2 linked regions of the Homo sapiens genome follow. The protein of the gene in region 2 interacts with the protein of the main gene of each other region in a biochemical or structural test. Each region holds a gene or a part of one and is shown on either strand. Other genes may lie near its edges. The genes, in order: PTPRZ1 and IL34.

The links.
Region 1: the proteins of IL34 (region 2) and PTPRZ1 form a complex in vitro, tested with the Homo sapiens proteins (one study listed by BioGRID).

The regions. Positions count from the first base shown.
Region 1 is NC_000007.14:122,007,932-122,018,016, forward strand, and holds part of PTPRZ1 (receptor-type tyrosine-protein phosphatase zeta isoform 1 precursor), read left to right. Parts: intron 1-2,402; coding exon 2,403-5,958; intron 5,959-10,085. UniProt on the Homo sapiens protein: Protein tyrosine phosphatase that negatively regulates oligodendrocyte precursor proliferation in the embryonic spinal cord. Required for normal differentiation of the precursor cells into mature, fully myelinating oligodendrocytes.
Region 2 is NC_000016.10:70,641,120-70,651,640, reverse strand, and holds the start of IL34 (interleukin-34 isoform 1 precursor), read right to left. Parts: upstream 5,083-10,521; 5' UTR 4,694-5,082; coding exon 4,666-4,693; intron 1-4,665. UniProt on the Homo sapiens protein: Cytokine that promotes the proliferation, survival and differentiation of monocytes and macrophages. Promotes the release of pro-inflammatory chemokines, and thereby plays an important role in innate immunity and in inflammatory processes.

The sequences.
Region 1 (10,085 bases), on a different chromosome or scaffold from region 2:
CTTACAGCGATCAACAAGATATGGTAGGGTAGGATTAATGAAGGTCTAATCACCCTCACTGGGTTCTGAGAGGTTCTGAACCTCATAAAGTTTATAGAACGCATATGTATCTGATGTGTGCATAGTTTTTTCCCAACTATGTAATAAGAAGAGGTGTGTAGCATTATGTTACAATAAAAATTTTATGAAAATTTACATTGCTTATAGGAGGATATGATAAAGGATGTTTATGTGGAAATATAAGCAAAGAGAAAGAAATGTAATATTATTGTGGAAGTCAATAGACATTGTTAGATCATATAGAGAAAATGGATGACATATCTTTGGGGAACTTTTGCTGTGAAGGAGAGACGAGAAGTAGAATGATAACTAGAAGGTGAATTAGAGGTTTTCCTTTGTGTTTCCTTTAAATAAGAGAGATCAGAGTTGATTTAAGCTGATGAGAATTATCTGTTTGAGAATTTGAGAAAACAAATCAGAAACACAAAATAGACTGAACTACTCAATTATGTTCAATTCCCAGGTTCATGATAGGGACTAGATCTAAAACACAGAAGTGCGAATTAGCTTTAGAAAGGAAGGAAAACAACTCTTTAGTTATAACAGGACAGGAGGGGCAGAGATAACTTGGTTGGTCCCTGTTTTTATGTTAAGAAGAAGTGTGTCTTTGGTGGCTTCTATTTTCCCTGAAAACAGGAAGGCCATCTGCTGAGAATGGGAGGAAAGGATAGGAAAATGAAGGTTTGACAGAGTTTTGGTAGAGAGAAGGAGTGTGGAGTGATACCAGAAAACTAGGCAAATATTTAGGTTTGCAAAAACAAGGAAGAGTTTAGAAACTCCACACTGCCAAGCTTAACATTGATCCCCAGCAAAACTCTGCATCACATTATAAAACAAATATTTATGAGAACTTCTAAGGAAAGAAGAGATAATTGGCACCAACCAATTTTCCCTAAAAGCAAGTCAAGGCAAATTATTCTCATTTCCTTTTGCATTAAGTTTTTAGGTTTGTAGATTATAGGAATATTTTATTTAGGAAATTATTTGGGAAAATCTCTCAGGTGGTCCTTGTGAACAAGGTATCACACAGAATGTAAAACTTCATAAAGAATACTGACTACTTGTAAGGAAATTTTTCAAGGGAATCTGAGAGAGTAGCCATTTTTAGCACTCAATATAATTCAGATCAAGTGCACTAACTTCCTAAAGTTGTCACTTATGCTTCAGAAGATACTCACGACCAGCCAAATAATTAAGCTGTAAATAATGAGGCAGCCATTAAGCTTGGAATCGTGTGTTTCATACAGTGCAGATTTCCGTGTGTATGACACATGCTCATGAGCACACACAGCTTAAGATTCAGATTCTTTCTACTGATACTGGTCAAGTTCTCAATGGCTGTACTCAGTAATTTTTTTCTTTTAAGGAACATGGCCTTAAAATATCTAATAGATGATCAAATAAATGACAATTCTAACAAGCTGTTGGGTACAAAGATACTGACAAAATCATGTCCCACATGAACTAAAAAAAAAAAAAAAACTTGATAACTTTGGCAATTGAGTTTTCTAAGTATATAATTAGATATAATATACCCAGTTTTATGTATATATACGTATATGTATATATATACATATATTGAATCTTCCATGCAATGAAGATTATGCTTAAAGCATAGGTCTTGGTTAACTTCTAGCTAGAAGACTAGACGTCTCCTCCTGGGTCATTGCATGGAAGATTCAGCCTCCTGAATGGTGATTCTAAGGGAAACACAAAATTAAAAAACTAGGAGTAGAATCATATATTGACAAGTTGCCTTTGAAATATCTGCCTAAGTCTTAAGTGGAAAATATTAAAAAACAAAAGGAAAAGAAAACCAAACACCTCTTTTAGTTCTAAATCTTCCCCTTATTATGACCTTAAAATTATGATTTGCTCTAAATAGATATAATTAAATATTCTGAATGTTCAACTACTTTGGTCTTTAAAATAGTTTCATCGCCAATTCTTATTACAATAAGCTAATGGCTATTTACCTTGATGCCTGATGAACAAAGAAATATAAAAACAATAAAATAAATGCCATGTTAAATAACACTGTCAATAAATAACTACAGTGTGTCTTCCTTTTAAATATGTGGTATCTATTCATTTAACCACTTCTTTCCATAGCATTAAAATAAAGGCGGCCATAAATTAGGTGTTTTCATTACGTTTAATTACTCCCCTGTAGAGCGGATGGTAAAGGTTGTAGGTTAGAGGTATGCATTGTACAGAATGGTGTTTTATGAGGATGAGAAGTTCCCAAGATACCACAAGTGATGATTGGCAGTGTAAGATATGAAGATTTTCTTTTTCTCTTATTTCCTTATGACTCATTAAATCTTGTTTGCTTTTCAAAGGAGGAGGAAGAGGGAAAAGACATTGAAGAAGGCGCTATTGTGAATCCTGGTAGAGACAGTGCTACAAACCAAATCAGGAAAAAGGAACCCCAGATTTCTACCACAACACACTACAATCGCATAGGGACGAAATACAATGAAGCCAAGACTAACCGATCCCCAACAAGAGGAAGTGAATTCTCTGGAAAGGGTGATGTTCCCAATACATCTTTAAATTCCACTTCCCAACCAGTCACTAAATTAGCCACAGAAAAAGATATTTCCTTGACTTCTCAGACTGTGACTGAACTGCCACCTCACACTGTGGAAGGTACTTCAGCCTCTTTAAATGATGGCTCTAAAACTGTTCTTAGATCTCCACATATGAACTTGTCGGGGACTGCAGAATCCTTAAATACAGTTTCTATAACAGAATATGAGGAGGAGAGTTTATTGACCAGTTTCAAGCTTGATACTGGAGCTGAAGATTCTTCAGGCTCCAGTCCCGCAACTTCTGCTATCCCATTCATCTCTGAGAACATATCCCAAGGGTATATATTTTCCTCCGAAAACCCAGAGACAATAACATATGATGTCCTTATACCAGAATCTGCTAGAAATGCTTCCGAAGATTCAACTTCATCAGGTTCAGAAGAATCACTAAAGGATCCTTCTATGGAGGGAAATGTGTGGTTTCCTAGCTCTACAGACATAACAGCACAGCCCGATGTTGGATCAGGCAGAGAGAGCTTTCTCCAGACTAATTACACTGAGATACGTGTTGATGAATCTGAGAAGACAACCAAGTCCTTTTCTGCAGGCCCAGTGATGTCACAGGGTCCCTCAGTTACAGATCTGGAAATGCCACATTATTCTACCTTTGCCTACTTCCCAACTGAGGTAACACCTCATGCTTTTACCCCATCCTCCAGACAACAGGATTTGGTCTCCACGGTCAACGTGGTATACTCGCAGACAACCCAACCGGTATACAATGGTGAGACACCTCTTCAACCTTCCTACAGTAGTGAAGTCTTTCCTCTAGTCACCCCTTTGTTGCTTGACAATCAGATCCTCAACACTACCCCTGCTGCTTCAAGTAGTGATTCGGCCTTGCATGCTACGCCTGTATTTCCCAGTGTCGATGTGTCATTTGAATCCATCCTGTCTTCCTATGATGGTGCACCTTTGCTTCCATTTTCCTCTGCTTCCTTCAGTAGTGAATTGTTTCGCCATCTGCATACAGTTTCTCAAATCCTTCCACAAGTTACTTCAGCTACCGAGAGTGATAAGGTGCCCTTGCATGCTTCTCTGCCAGTGGCTGGGGGTGATTTGCTATTAGAGCCCAGCCTTGCTCAGTATTCTGATGTGCTGTCCACTACTCATGCTGCTTCAGAGACGCTGGAATTTGGTAGTGAATCTGGTGTTCTTTATAAAACGCTTATGTTTTCTCAAGTTGAACCACCCAGCAGTGATGCCATGATGCATGCACGTTCTTCAGGGCCTGAACCTTCTTATGCCTTGTCTGATAATGAGGGCTCCCAACACATCTTCACTGTTTCTTACAGTTCTGCAATACCTGTGCATGATTCTGTGGGTGTAACTTATCAGGGTTCCTTATTTAGCGGCCCTAGCCATATACCAATACCTAAGTCTTCGTTAATAACCCCAACTGCATCATTACTGCAGCCTACTCATGCCCTCTCTGGTGATGGGGAATGGTCTGGAGCCTCTTCTGATAGTGAATTTCTTTTACCTGACACAGATGGGCTGACAGCCCTTAACATTTCTTCACCTGTTTCTGTAGCTGAATTTACATATACAACATCTGTGTTTGGTGATGATAATAAGGCGCTTTCTAAAAGTGAAATAATATATGGAAATGAGACTGAACTGCAAATTCCTTCTTTCAATGAGATGGTTTACCCTTCTGAAAGCACAGTCATGCCCAACATGTATGATAATGTAAATAAGTTGAATGCGTCTTTACAAGAAACCTCTGTTTCCATTTCTAGCACCAAGGGCATGTTTCCAGGGTCCCTTGCTCATACCACCACTAAGGTTTTTGATCATGAGATTAGTCAAGTTCCAGAAAATAACTTTTCAGTTCAACCTACACATACTGTCTCTCAAGCATCTGGTGACACTTCGCTTAAACCTGTGCTTAGTGCAAACTCAGAGCCAGCATCCTCTGACCCTGCTTCTAGTGAAATGTTATCTCCTTCAACTCAGCTCTTATTTTATGAGACCTCAGCTTCTTTTAGTACTGAAGTATTGCTACAACCTTCCTTTCAGGCTTCTGATGTTGACACCTTGCTTAAAACTGTTCTTCCAGCTGTGCCCAGTGATCCAATATTGGTTGAAACCCCCAAAGTTGATAAAATTAGTTCTACAATGTTGCATCTCATTGTATCAAATTCTGCTTCAAGTGAAAACATGCTGCACTCTACATCTGTACCAGTTTTTGATGTGTCGCCTACTTCTCATATGCACTCTGCTTCACTTCAAGGTTTGACCATTTCCTATGCAAGTGAGAAATATGAACCAGTTTTGTTAAAAAGTGAAAGTTCCCACCAAGTGGTACCTTCTTTGTACAGTAATGATGAGTTGTTCCAAACGGCCAATTTGGAGATTAACCAGGCCCATCCCCCAAAAGGAAGGCATGTATTTGCTACACCTGTTTTATCAATTGATGAACCATTAAATACACTAATAAATAAGCTTATACATTCCGATGAAATTTTAACCTCCACCAAAAGTTCTGTTACTGGTAAGGTATTTGCTGGTATTCCAACAGTTGCTTCTGATACATTTGTATCTACTGATCATTCTGTTCCTATAGGAAATGGGCATGTTGCCATTACAGCTGTTTCTCCCCACAGAGATGGTTCTGTAACCTCAACAAAGTTGCTGTTTCCTTCTAAGGCAACTTCTGAGCTGAGTCATAGTGCCAAATCTGATGCCGGTTTAGTGGGTGGTGGTGAAGATGGTGACACTGATGATGATGGTGATGATGATGATGATGACAGAGGTAGTGATGGCTTATCCATTCATAAGTGTATGTCATGCTCATCCTATAGAGAATCACAGGAAAAGGTAATGAATGATTCAGACACCCACGAAAACAGTCTTATGGATCAGAATAATCCAATCTCATACTCACTATCTGAGAATTCTGAAGAAGATAATAGAGTCACAAGTGTATCCTCAGACAGTCAAACTGGTATGGACAGAAGTCCTGGTAAATCACCATCAGCAAATGGGCTATCCCAAAAGCACAATGATGGAAAAGAGGAAAATGACATTCAGACTGGTAGTGCTCTGCTTCCTCTCAGCCCTGAATCTAAAGCATGGGCAGTTCTGACAAGTGATGAAGAAAGTGGATCAGGGCAAGGTACCTCAGATAGCCTTAATGAGAATGAGACTTCCACAGATTTCAGTTTTGCAGACACTAATGAAAAAGATGCTGATGGGATCCTGGCAGCAGGTGACTCAGAAATAACTCCTGGATTCCCACAGTCCCCAACATCATCTGTTACTAGCGAGAACTCAGAAGTGTTCCACGTTTCAGAGGCAGGTTAGTTACGGATCAGAAGGACAGATTGAGGTGTGGTGGTTTGCTTGCTCTAAAAGTAAAATGAAAATTATAGAAAGATAGAAATTTGGTAAAATGGTACATCATCATTTTTAAAATCAAAACATTCAACAAATCAGTCTCCAGTTTCTGAAGTATAATTTTATTTATTATTTCAAACAATTATTTAACACATTTTGGTTTTTAATTTAATTCTCTCCAAAATAGACAAAACAATTTTTATTTATTGTCAATATTTCATACTCTACAGGATGTCTTTTATGGGTGGGGGCAATTCTGTTTGCATAATACATTTTTAGTACACTGCTTTTAAAGCAAGATCAGAGTATGCTATTTTAGATGATTTTAATTTTCATACTTTTGTTCTAAAATAAGTTGTAAACTAATTCTATTTAATTATAAAATGAATTATTAAATCTGAGAGTAATGTGACATAAGCACTTCTCTCTGACACACCCCTGTAGAAAGGAATTAGTTAATTTCCACATTCATATCAGCTTGGGGAGCTTTATTTATTATTATTATTTAATTAATTAATTAATTAATTTTGAGACGGAGTCTCGCTCTGTCGCCCAGGCTGGAGTGCAGTGGTGCAATCTCGGCTTACTACAAGCTCCGCCTCCCAGGTTCACGCCATTCTCCTGCCTCAGCCTCCCGAGTAGCTGAGACTACAGGCGCCCACCACCACGCCAGGCTAATTTTGTGTATTTTTAGTAAAGACGGGGTTTCACCATGTTAGCCAGGATGGTCTTGATCTCCTGACCTCGTGATCCACCCGCCTCGGCCTCCCAAAATGTTGGGATTACAGGCGTGAGCCACTGCACCAGGCCAGGGAGGTATTTATGTATTTATTTATTTATTTAGTTTTATTACTAAGTTTTGAGAGTTAATAATGAAGTTAAAAAAAATTTTAATTTTTTTGTCTTTCTTTATCTTAATGTTGCCTAAAGAGGGCAGTGTAAACCATCAAAATACATTTTACTTTATGCCTGCTGTTACACACTTTTTTAAGTTAAATAATGGGCATTAATATGTACAGTATGTATAGGTATTGTATCACAAGATGTAAAACACTAAACATTTTTCTGTAGAAATGAATTTCATTTGTGAATGTATTTTATGCAAATTAGCTTACTGACCAGATGTTTCTTAGAGCAGATTATGTGCAGTGTTTATAATACAGATGTCTGCTTTAAATGCCAATGGAAAGAAGAGGGAAGTTCAATCCTATTAAGTATAGAAAAGTAATACTTTCATTGAATTGGTCATAAGAATTTTATAATTTGCTTTTATTAAATGTGAACGTATCTTAAAGTTTAATAATGAAACTATTTAAATCTTAACATCAAGTTAAATGATAGGCTAATGTAACAAAATGCACTCATTGTATAAAAGTGAATATTTGTAATCCAGAACATAGACATCAGTCTCATTAGAATATTTTTCCTCTTTGCGATTTCATCTTTTTAATTAGTTGTATATTTTTTCTTCAGTGCAGCAGCAATTAAAAGTTTGTACATTTTGATAGAAAACTTTTTCTGTATTCTGAATTGATACCTATTTAACATTGCATTTTAAACACTTAAATGCTGATATGTGAGAATGAATAATGAATCCATAGGTCACTATAGTCATTAGTGCTGTCATATATATGAACTGTTATCTGTTCTCAATTATAGTAGCTGCTTTTTAGTTTTCATTAGATTTATGTTAAAAGAAAATATCAGGAATCCATCTATCTGTCTTACCAGGTAGTGACATTGATACGTTCTTGCTAGACTATGCTATTATAGAAGGATATATATAATGAGATGCTAAACCTAAAATTATTGACTAAAGCTTAGCAAATTTCTCTTCAGTGCACTAATTAGTTTTATTTAATTATCAAGAGTGTGTTCTCCCACTAATTAGGATAAAACAATATGAATATGACATCCAACATTATCAAGTAACATAATTAGTGAAGTAAATAAGATCAAACAAGATTAGGGGAAAATTCTGGCCTATTTTTAAAACTGTATCTATAAAATCATATGTAATCTGTCTTATCCAATAATTGAATATATCCCTTTATCAAATGCATGCAGACTAGCTCTGAAACTTAAGATTTTATGGTGTATTTCTAGAATGCAGAACAATTTACAGGATGTGTTCTTTAAAATACTATAGATAAGGCAAATATTAGTATCCACAATTTATAAATGAGTACACTGACACCCAAAGATACTAGATTATTTGATCCAGGTCACATGAGTAAATACAAAACTGAGCCTGGAAATGTCTATCTCTTAAAGATTATGCTTTCATGTTAGGGGCCAATTAAATAAATGTAATGCTTAAATTGTAATACCAAAATTATACTATCTTATTCTCAAAACATCTTTTAAAATGTTAATCTTAGTTTTTTATTTCTTAATTACCTATTAATTAAATATTTTAATTTAGGTAACTCATATATACTACTGAGCCATCTCAAGGAGATATTTTAGTCTCAAATAAATAAAAATAAAATCAGTAAAATTAATTCCTCATTATAGTACACAAAGCAACCAACTGATTGTCTGTGCTTTCATAAGATATCCTATTTTGTGTAAAAGAGCTAGGTTTCATGCCATAGTTTGATCATTCTGACTCCTTAATTAAAGGATTTAAGATCAAATATCCCAGAGCACTTTTGAGAAAAGTTTATACACAAGACTATATGTGTGTGCATGTGTGTATACAGTGTCTGTATATAAATATGTGTATATGGTATATTTACATATATAATGCATTATATATCTTACATATATGACATATATGATAGGACATATCTCATATATATGTATGCTATACATATATAAATGAAATATGTAATTATATATATATATACCCATATACATGTTGCTTTGAAAATTTGTGGCTATTGAAGACCTGCATAATTATATAAGCTTACTTCGTACATATATTAATCTACATCACTGGTTCTCAAACTTTAACATAGATCAAAATCAACTGGAGGACTCGTCAAAACACAAATTGCTGACCCTTACACACAGAGTTTCTGGTTCAGAAGATTTTGTATGGTTTGAGCGAAGCCTAAAATTTGCATTTCTAAGTTATGATGATGTTGATGCTGCTATTCTGGGGATCAAACGTCAAGAAAATCTGATATAGATAATAATATTAACCACCATTTGTACTAAATGAGGTACCAAGGACTTTGCTAAGTGAATGTTTTCATTTATTACTGACACACTTACTTTCCATCTAGGTAACAATAGTTACAATAGAAAAAACTGTGAAGACAACCATGTATAAAATAAGATGTTTTTCTAAATTTTATAAGGAAATGCTCATTGCATTCACCATCAGGTTATTTAGGTGACTAGATGATTCTAAATGAGTCTCCACAAAATAATGGCCAGAGCTTAGGATTAACATTTTAAAAAATGGAGTCTTGGGCTTTTCTCACAAGAATATTAGCTACAACTCAGGGCTGAGTTGGCTTAGAACATTTTCACTTTTTATACAGTTTTATGATTTTTAATCACACCTTTGAATTCCATTTTTCCTAGTAAATGCATTTATAGTTATAAGACCAAACATCTTGGGAAGTGTGTGTGCCATTTATATTCCTGTGATACATTACATTTATTTATTTATTTATTTATTTATTTATTTATTTATTTTGAGATAGAGTCTCACTCTGTTGCCCAGGCTGTAGTGCAGTGGCGTGATCTCAGCTCACTGCAACCTCTACTTCCCGGGTTCAGGCCATTCTCCTGACTCAGCTTCCCAAGTAGCTGGGATTACAAGTGTGCACCACCACGCCTGGCTAATTTTTGTATTTTTTATTTTTTTTAGTAGAGATGGGGTTTCACCATGTTGGCCAGGCTGGTCTTGAACTCCTGACCTCAAGTGATCCGCCTGCCTCAGCCTCTCAAAGTGCTGGGATTACAGGCATGAGCCACCACGCCCAGCCTGATACATTCCCTTTATTAATGGATTAAATTCCTGTCCCTTTCTGCTATCACCCTTGATCAACAGAAGAAAGCTATTATTTTAAATCTTAAGTTCTCTCCAATTAGATATATTTTAATGCTATATATGTGCACTTATATTAGTCT
Region 2 (10,521 bases):
GGTCTGGGCCACACCACCCATTTGCTACCTCCCCACTGCCTTCTCCAAACCTGCCCTGCTCAGGCCTCCTGCCTCGCCTTTGTCCCTGCAGGACCTCCCACCAGGAGTGCCCTTGCTCAGCTCAGAGCCTCAGGTCTCCTCAAGCCCTGTACCCCATATAGCCCCACATTTTTTGCTAAGTTGCAAGTCTGCAATCTATCTTGCACTTCCTCTCTCCCTCTTCCCCTGTGCCTGATACAGTATTGGGTGAGAAGAACAGATAAACATGAACTGAACCAGTGTTTGGCCCTTTAACATCTGCTTACTTTCTGTCCTAAGTCCTGAACCCCTCAGCTTAGCATCTACTCTTGCAGGTCAAGATCATCCCTGCCTCCTGGGCTCATGCTTTGCCCTGCGCTAGGTACCCTCTCACAACACAGACCTCTTTCAAAGCCTCCCAGAGACTCTTCTCTCCCCCCCATCACCACGCCAGGGTCTCCCCTTTCTGCATCAGCCCCCATCGGTCTCTGTCTCCAGCACCACCTTCCCCATTCACTCATGACCTGGGATTACAGGTGCGCGCCACCACATCCGGCTAATTTTTTTTGTATTTTTAGTAGAGACGGCGTTTCACCAGGTTGGCCAGGCTGGTCTTGAACTCCTGACCTCGTGATCCACTCACCTCGGCTTCCCAAAGTGCTGGGATTACAGGCGTGAGCCTGTGTGTGAATCCATAACGCAGTTAAACACTGCACAGCCCAGCGTGCTGAGAACTTCACATGTGCATTTGGGGATTCGCCTCAAGCAGTAGAAATGGGAGCAGACATTGTCATCCCTTGCAGAGCTCGTTAAGGCACAGGTTGTCCTGCCTGCCCCAGAGTCTCTGCTCAACCAGTCTAGGATGCAGAGAGTCTACCTTTCTAACAAGGTCCCAGGTAAAGCTGTGGCTGGGGGTCTGGAACCACAGACCTAGAGCAACAGTTGCAAGCTGGTGTCCCGAGAGCCACCTCTGGTCCACAAGGATTTCACACAACAATTCAAAATTTCAGCTTTTCTTTAAAAAAATCAGTACCTCTGTCCACACTGGGTCTTTTTTCCTGTGTGGCCATCACCATTGGCCGTCTACTTCACCTCCCAACCCTACAGCACCTGCCCTTCTCTGTGTCCCGTTCTGGGGCCCTGGGGACCCGGCAGCTGTGGCCTCAAGGCAGGGACTGTGCCTTGGAGTGACACTGAGCCTCCCAGCCTGACACGGTGGGCACACAGCTGCCCTGGAAACCCTGTCCACAGATGATCTGCCTCTCCCCCAACTGGGCAGCCTTCCTCTGAGTGCAGCCCAAACATCATTGCTAAGGGCAAGTTTCTTTTTTTGCTGCCTCCACCCACCCAGAGAAACAGGTTAACAAACAGGGACCAGGCAGGGACAGCACAGCCCCAACCTCAAGGCCACTGTCCCCCACATGCTCTGCACACCAGGAACCCCACAGCCAGTGCCACCCCTGACCTTGGTCAGGAGACCCACCCTGCCCTTGTCTTAGCCCAGAGGTAAGAACCCACAACACAGGCTGGGCACGGAGGCTCACACCTGTAATCCCAGCACTTTGGAAGGCCGAGGTGGGCGGATCACCTGAGGTCAGGAGTTCAAGACCAGTCTGGCCAACATGGTGAAACCCCATCGCTACTAAAAATACAAAAATTAGCCAGGCGCAGTGGCAGGTGCCTGTAGTCCCAGCTACTCGGGAGGCTGAGACACAAGAATCATCTGAACCCAAGAGGCAGAGGATGCAGTGAGCTGAGATCGTGCCGCAGCACTCCAGCCTGGGTGACAGAGTGAGACTCCGTCTCAAAAAATAAAAATAAAAATAAAATAATAAAACAACCTGCAAGACAGAGAGGAGGCTTAAGAAAGATCTGTGTGAGTACGGTACTCCCTTCCTGGTTCCCTGGCCCTGGGTTGACCCTATGTGCAGTGACAAGTGAGGCTTGTCACCCCCAGCCCCGGGGACCAAATCTGAACCTGTGCAGTGGGTTAAATAGCATCTCCTCCAAATCCACATTCACCCGAACCCGAGTGTGACCTTGTTTGGAAATGGGGTCTTTGTGAAGTAGGAGGTAGGACCGACTCCAGAGGCAGAGCCCTGACACTGGACCAAACTGAGGACTAGTGAAAACAGGGGTGGACGGGGCAGAAGCAGCATTCCAAAAGACATGCTCAGCAGTGTGCCATGTCAGTTTACCATTGCCATGGCAACGCCTGGGAGTTACCACCGCTTTCCATAGCAATGACCCAATGTCCCAAAAGTTACTACCCCTTCCCTAGAAATGTCTGCATAAACTGCCCCTTAATCTGCATGCAATTAAAGGTGGGTATAAATATGACTGCAAAAGGCCCCGAGCTGCTCCTCAGTACGCTTCCTCTGGCACAGCCCTGCTCTGCAGGAGCTGGCACAGAGCTATAACATCTCTTCAGTAAAGCTGTTTTCTTCTACCACCAGCTTGCCTTGAATTCTCTCCTAGGGAAAGCCAAGAACCCTCGCAGGCTAAGCCCCCTTGGGGGCTCGCCTGTCCTGTGCCACTTACAGGCATTATTAAATGAAGGATGTCAAGATTAGGCCATCCTGGATTTAGGCAGTTCCCTAAATCCAGTGACTAGTGTCCTAGGAAGAAGAGGAGAGGACATAGAGACACACAAAGGGAAAGGCCACGCAAAGACAAAGGGAGATCTGAGTGACTAGGCCACAAGCCAAGGAAGCCAGGAGCCACCAGGAGCTGGAAGAGGCAAGGGAGGCTCCTTCTCGGCACCTTTAGAGGGAACGCAGCCCTGCAGGCACCCTGATCTCACACTTCCGGTCTCCAGAACTGTGAGACGACACATTCCTGTTGCTCTAAGCCACCCGAAGCTTTCTAATTGGTTATGGCAGCCCAACTTCCTCAGCACCCCAGCCCCTGGGCACCAGCCCCCACCTCAATCTGCTGCTCTCCCTCTCCCTCATCCCCCAGCCAGTCTTTGCCTGGTCCTAAGACCCACCCCTCCTGGAGCTTTTTCCCCTCTCCCTTGCTTTTCTTTCTCTCTTTTTCTTTTCTCCTTTTTTTTTTTTTTTTTTTTTTTAAAGACAGGGTCTCACCCTGTTGCCCAGGCTGCAGTGCAGTGATGCGATCCTTGCTACTGCAGCCTCAACCTCCTGGGCTCAAGTGATCCTCCCACCTCAGCCTCCTGAGTAGCTGGGATTACAGATGTATGCCACCACACCTGGCTAATTTTCCTTTTTTTAGAGATGGAGTCTCGCTATGCTGCCCAGCCTGGTTTCAAACTCCTGGCCTCAAGCCGTCCTCCTGCCTTGGCCTCCCACAGTGCTGGGATCACGGGCGTGAGCCACCAGCCCAGCATCCCTTGCCTTTCATTCGCACCTCCACCTCCAGAATGACCCTCATTCCCTCCTGCACAGACGGTGACAGCAGTAACTCCTACAAACACCACCAGACTGATCTTCAAGAGCAGAGGAACTCCCAATCACGATTCCACCCCCGCCGGGCTCTCAAATCCTCCAGGGCTGCCTGCTATGGGGAGGGAGGCACACTTTGCTTGGCTCTCAAGGCCTCAGCCAGCCGGGTCCAAACCAGCTCCCAGCCTGGCCTCACCATCCCACCGCCAAACCTTTGCTCACACTGGCCCCTCTTCCTGGAACATGGGCCTCATGACCCCAGGTCTACCTGTGTGACCACCACCCCACCTTCTAGACCATTTCCAGTAGCCCCTCCCCCATGCTGCACCCCTGCTTCTCATGACCTAGGGGTTTCCAGAACATTGGGTCCAGCTGGGTCCTTCCACCCATCCTTAATGTCCCAACCCTTTGTTGTATATTTCCACAAGGGCCAGGGTGGACCCAACTCTTCTTTCAATCCCTCGCAGGCTCATACCCCAAACCTCCAACAGTTCCTGAGCACTCAACCCTGTGCCAGGCGTTGGAGACAGAGGCACGAGACAGCAAGGTCCTTGTTGTCATGGCAGTGACTCTGCAGTGGGCACGTGGGAGGCACCGGAAAAATGTGTTGAATTTGAGTCAATTGAACTGGATCTTGGAGACTGAGGGGATCTTGGTCTGGCCTCCCAGCCAGCAGGCATAAGAGGCTTCCAGATCCTTTTTTTCCTTTCTGTCCTCATTTCAACTTATTTTTCTTTTTACCAACAGTGTTATCTTTCTGCTTTTTAATTCTGTTCTGTTATGGAGGGAGGGTTGGAGGGGAACAGGCTGCCTTCTCCAGGCATCTGGCTGCTCTTCTGCCGTGGGTCTTGGGTCCCTAGACACTTTCACCAGCCCCTGCCCCCCTCCACCGGCCATACCCAGGACTGGGCCGCTGCTGCCCGCCCGGGGCTCCCCAACACCCACAAGCCTGGAAAGGTGAGATGCTGCCACCTACCCCCAGTGCCTGCCCCGACCTAAGACCACCCTGAGGACCATGCCCACCCAGCCAGAACTGCCCACCCAGCTTGCCCGTCGGAGCCCGAAGTGAGCGGCAGACAGGGCAGACGGCGGCCGTGGGAATCTCAGAGGGTGTCTGCAGTCCGGCTGGGAAGCATCGCAACTTCTCACCAGCAAGAATGCCCTGGTTGCTATGGTTACGGCAGATCCTGGATCTAGGCCAAGGCCTCCCAATGCAGGTCCCTAGGGACCCCCCAGTACTCACAGCGCAGCCAGGTGAAGCCCCGGGGCATGGTGGTGTTCCTCGTCCCCCTGAGAGCTCAGGCGCCGTCCCCAGCAGTGTGTCCACAGAGGCCTAAGCACGGCCTACATGGCCTCGGGGCAGCAGAGGTGGTCACTCAGTCAGGGAAGGGCTGGCCCTGGAGGAGTGGCTGGGCTGCGGGAGTGAGCAGGTGCCCCAAGGGCAGCAGCTGCCCTTATCTGCCCGGCAGCGTGGAGGACAGCCGGGGGGCGGTGGCCGCAAGTCCCATGGCAGCCCAGAAGCAGGTCTGAGCCGGTGGCTTGGGGGTCTTTCGGGGTCTTCCTTTCCAAGGAGCAGGAGGAGAGAGTCCCTGGCAGGCCCCTCGGAATCTGGGGCTGGGTGACGCTTTCTCTGATTTCTCCGACTGCAGCTGCTCAGTGTGAAATCTGGCTCTAGGAAGAGAAAGGAGGAGAGAAACTGATTATGTAAGAGCAGCGCTGCCACTCAGCCATCAGCCACAGCGCACACCGCACCCACGGCCTGCACAGGACCACCCGGCCCTGGCAGCTGGACACGGCTCACGTGAGAAATGACTTCAGGATGTCCGAACGGCCCTGGCCCATGAGTGAGTTATGATGACACCAGCTGGCAGCCTGGGGCCTGAACAAAAGCAGGACCAAGGAATGAACAGGTGGTTTGAGTTCACACATCGAGAGCCATGGTAGAGTCCATGAATGACTCAGGCTAAAGGACAGGTTAAAAAAGCAGACGAGCTCCCACTCCGAAAACAAGCCGGACGCAATGGCTCATGCTTGTAATCCCAGCACTTTGGGAGGCCAAGGTGGGAGGATTGCGTGAGCCCAGGAGTTCGAGACCAGCCTGGTCAGCATAGTAAGACCTCAGTTCTATTAATAAAAAAAAAATTAAGAAAAAAAAAATTTTTTTGAGACGGAGTCTCAGACTCTGTCATCCAGGCTGTAGTGCAGTGGCGTGATTTTGGCTCACTGCAGCCTCCACCTCCAGGGTTCAAGCAATTCTCCTGCTTCAGCCTCCCAAGTAGCTGGGATTACAGATGTGCACTACCATGCCTGGCTAATTTTTGTATTTTTAGTAGAGATGGGGTTTCACCATGTTGGCCAGGCTAGTCTCAAACTCCTGGACTCAAGTGATCTGCTGTCTTGGCCTCCCAAAGTGCTGGGATTACAGGCGTGAGCCACCGCACCCGGCCAGGACTAAGGTCTTTACATTCACTGAATCTCTCACAACAATCTCATGGAAGTGCAAAATCTCAGTTTATCAATGAGGAAACTGAGGCCCAGAAAGGTTAAGACACTTGTCCAAGGTCATACGGCTTGTAAGAAGTGTGACAGGAATTCAAACCCTGTGGGCTGGTGGCTGCTCCCAAAATTCGACAACCACACAGGGCTCAGCGTGTGTGCGTGGTCCTCCCATCTGCCCCTCTGGACTCTGCAAGGTCTGGACCATTGTGTCTGCTCTGCAGATCAGGCTGGAATTCCGTCTCTGATTTAGTTCTCTTCCATCCCCTCGCCTCCTCCCTGTCTCCCCTCTGGTGGGGGAAAATGGCTACAGAGTGACACCATCGGGGGAGAGCAGGTATGACTTGGGCATCTTCTTCATTGTGTGATCCATGGTGTCACCAAAGAATGCTGGCCCTTACCCTAAGAGGTGCCCAGCAGGCAGGCAGGGCCTTATAGAGAGAACACGGGTTGTTCAAGTTAATCCCTTATGCAGTCACCCTGAATCTCAGCCCCAGTCGCTGCCTGCTGCTGCTCCTCTTTTCCTTGTCCTTCCTCCTTTTCCTCCTTCCTCTTCCTCCTTCTCTTCCTCCTCCTCCTTCCTCGTCTTCCTCCTTCCTCCCTCTTCTTCCTCCTCTTTCCCCCTCCTCCTTCCTACTCTTCCCTCTTCCTTTCTCCTTCCTTCTCTTCCTCCTTCCTCGTCCTCCTTCCTTTTTCCTTCTCCTCCTTCCTCCTCTTCCTCTTCTTCCTCCTTCCTCCTACTCCCTTTCTCTTCCTCCTTCCTCCTCCTCTTCCTCCTTCCTCCTCTTCCTCCTTCCTCCTCCTTCTCCTCCCTCCTCTTCCTCCTTCCTCTTCCACCTCCTTCCTCTTCCTACTTCCTCCTCTTCCTCCTCTTCCCTCCTTCCTCTTCCTCCTTCCTCCTCCCTTCCTCCTTTTCATTCCTCCTCCCTCCTCCTTTTCCTCCCTCCTCCCTCCTCCTTTTCCTCCCTCCTCCCTCCTCCTCTTCCTCTTCCCCCTCCCCCTCCTCCTCCCCCTCCTCCTCCTCCTCACCCTGGCAATTCCCCTGCTGTTACAGCATCACTACAAACACTAACGTATCTAGAACATTTAGTTGTCATTAGTTTGGGGATTTTTTTCAGGTTTATTGAGGGCTAATTTACATATACTACATTTTACCCTTTTCAGTATACATTTCTAAAAGTTTTTAGCACATTTATAGAGCTGTGTAATTACTATAATAATCAAGATACAAAACATTTCCATCTACCCAAAAAATTCATTCCTTTATAGTGGAAGTTGTCTAAACAAACTGAAACAAGGTAGAATAGTATAACAGACCCCCATATAGCAGTTACTCAGATTCAAAAATTGTCAATCTGGCTGGGTGCAGTGTCTCACACCTGTAATCCCAGCACTTTGGGAGGCCGAGGCGGGTGAATCAGTTGAGGCAGAATAAACTCCAAGGAGAAGGGGAAAAAACAACTTCAAATACCAATAGAAAAACAAAAAAGTTATTTCCACAGAGTTGTCCATAAAAGGTCAGGACTTTGAGACCAGCCTGGCCAACATGGTGAAACCCTGTCTCTACTAAAAATACAAAAATTAGCCAGGTGTGGTGGTGCATGCCTGTAATCCCAGCTACTCAGGAGGCTGAGGCAGCAGAATCACTGGAACCCAGGAGGCGGAGGTTGCAGTGAGCCAAGATTGCTCCACTGCCCTCCAGTCGGGGCAACAGAGCGAGATTCTGTCTCAAAACAAAAGAAAAAAATGATCACTCTTCTGTCATTCCAGCTTCACTCATCCCCCAATTTTTTTTTCCAGGAATATTTTAAAGCAAATCTCAAACATGCCATTTCACCAGCATGTAGGGATTTTTAAAATATATAATCACAATATTGTCATCACACAACCCTCAAATTAATAACTCTTTAATATGATTTCATATAGAATCCACGTTCAATTTTCCCTGGTTATTTTTTAAATCTCTGATGTGCATCTTAAGTCTTTTTTCTTTTTAAAAATCAATATATAATTTGCATGCCATAAAATTTACCATTTTAAAGTGTACAGGCTGCGTGTGATGGCTCACACTTGTAATCCCAGCACCTTGGGAGGCCAAGGCCGGGGGATCGCTTCAGCCCAGGGCTTTGAGACCAGCCCGGGCAACATAGTGAGAACCCGTATCTACCAACAAAAATTTTTTTAATTAGGTGGGTGTAGTGGCACGGGCCTGTGGTCCCAGCTACTTGGGAGGCTGAGATGGGAGGATCACTTGAGCCAGGGAGGTCAAGGCTGCAGTGAACCATGATCACGCCACTGCACTCCAGCATGGGTGACAAAGCAAGACCCTGTCTCAAAATAAATAAATAAAGTGTGCAACAGCCAGGTGCAGTGGCTCACTCCTGTCATCCCTGCAGTTTGGGAGGCCAAGGCAGGTGGATCACCTGAGGTCAGGGATTCGAGACCAGCCTGGCCAATATGGCAAAACCCTATCTCTACTAAACATACAAAAGATTAGCCAGGCACGGTGGTGCGCACCTGTAATCCCAGCTACTCAGGAGGCTGAGGCAGGAGAATCACTTGAACCCGGGAGGCAGAGGTTGCAGTGAGCCGAGGTAGTCCCACTGCACTCCAGCCTGGGTGACAGAGTGAGATCCGTCTCAAAAATAAATAAAAATAAATAAAAATAAATAATAAAGTGTACAACTTTGTGGGTTTTTAGTGTACTAAGTTGTGCAACAGTCACCATTATTTAATTACAGAACATTTTCATCACCCCCAAAATAAACTCTGAACTCATTAGCAGTCACCCCCTATTCCCTCTTCCTCCCAGCCCCTGGCAGCCACTAATATTCTTTCTGTCTCTATGGATTTGCCTATTCTGGACATTTCATATAAATGGGATTGATTATGCAATACGGGACCTTTCATGTCTGGCTTCTTTCACTTAGCATGTTTTCAGGGTTCATTCATTTTGTAGCATGTTATGAACTGAATGTTTGTGTCTCTCCAAAATACATGTGTTGAAGTTGTAACCCCTAATGTGGTGGTTCCTGGAGATGAGGCCTTGGGAGATAATTAGGTTTGGATGAGGTCACAAGGATGGGGTCCTTATGGTGGGATAATGCCTTTATAAGAAAAGAAATCAGGCCGGGCTCAGTGGCTCACGCCTGTAATCCCAGCACTTTGGGAGCCCAAGGCGGGAGGATCACAAGGTAAGGAGTTCAAGACAAGCCTGACCAACATGGTGAAACACCGTCTCCACTAAAAATACAAAAATTAGGCGGGCGCAGTGGCAGGTGCCTGTAATCCCAGCTACTCAGGAGGCTGAGGCAGGAGAATCGCTTGAACTCAGAGGGCAAAGTTTGCAGTGAGCCGAGATCATGCCACTGCACTCCAGCCTGGGTAACAGAGTGAGACTCCGTCTCAAAAAAAAAAAAAAAAAAAAAGACATCAGAGTACGCTCACTCTCTCTGTCTCTGTCTTTGTCTCTCTCTCTCTCTGTCTCTTCCCATACTCACACAAAGAACTGGTCATGTGAGTACATAGTGAGAAGGTGGCCATCTGCAACCCAAGGGAAGAGCCCTCACCGGAAATCAATCATGCTGGTGCCCTGATCTCAAAGTTCCAGCCCAGAGAATGGTGAGAAAACAGATTTCTGTTGTTTAAGCCACCCGGTCTATGGTATTTTTTTATGGAAGGCCAGGTAAACTAAGACACAGCATGTATCCGTACTTTACTCTTTTTATTGTCAAATAATGCTCCCTTGCATGAATATCCCACATTTTCTTTGTCCATTTCAGATTGTATTGTTTTCTGGCTTCCTCCAAAATAACTAATGAGGATTTTTAGTGTCATTTTGAAATTATTAATTTTGGCCAGGCGCAGTGGCTCATGCCTATAATTCCAACACTTTGGGAGGTTGCGGGGGGGTGGATTGCTTGAGCCCAGGAGTTCAAGACCAGCCTGGGCAACACAGCAAAACCCTGTCTCTACAAAAAATACAAAAATTAGCCGGACAAGGAGGCATGCACCTGTACTCCCAGCTGCTAGGGAGGCTAAGGTGGGAAGATCACTTGAATCTGGGGAGGTGGAGGCAGCAACAGGCCATGATCATGCCACTGCACTCCAGCCTTGGCAACAGAGTGAGATTCCATCTCAAAAAGTAAAAAAAAAAAGAAAGAAAGGCAGGAAGGAAGGAAGGAAGGGAGGGAGGGAGGAAGGGAGGGAGGGAGAGAGGGAGGGAAAGAATTTTTTTAATTTATGTATTTCAATCCATTGAAGTTACTTTAAAGTCAGGCTTATTGAGGTGTAATTGATGGACAGTGAAGCTCACCTTCTTTAAGTATACAGTGCCCTTGGTTGGTGAACTTTTGGGCTGTTTCCACCTTTTGGCCATTATGAATAATATGGCTATGAAAATCCATGTGCAAGTTTTTGTGTAGGCATAACATTTTCTTGTTGTTGTTTTGAGATGAAGTCTCGCTCTGTTGCCCAAGCTGGAGTGCAGTGGTGTGATCTCAGCTCACTGCAACCTCTGCCTCCCAGGTCCAAGTGATTCCCCTGCTTAGCCTCCCAAGCAGCTATGATTACAGGCGTGCACCACCACTTCCGGCTGATTTTT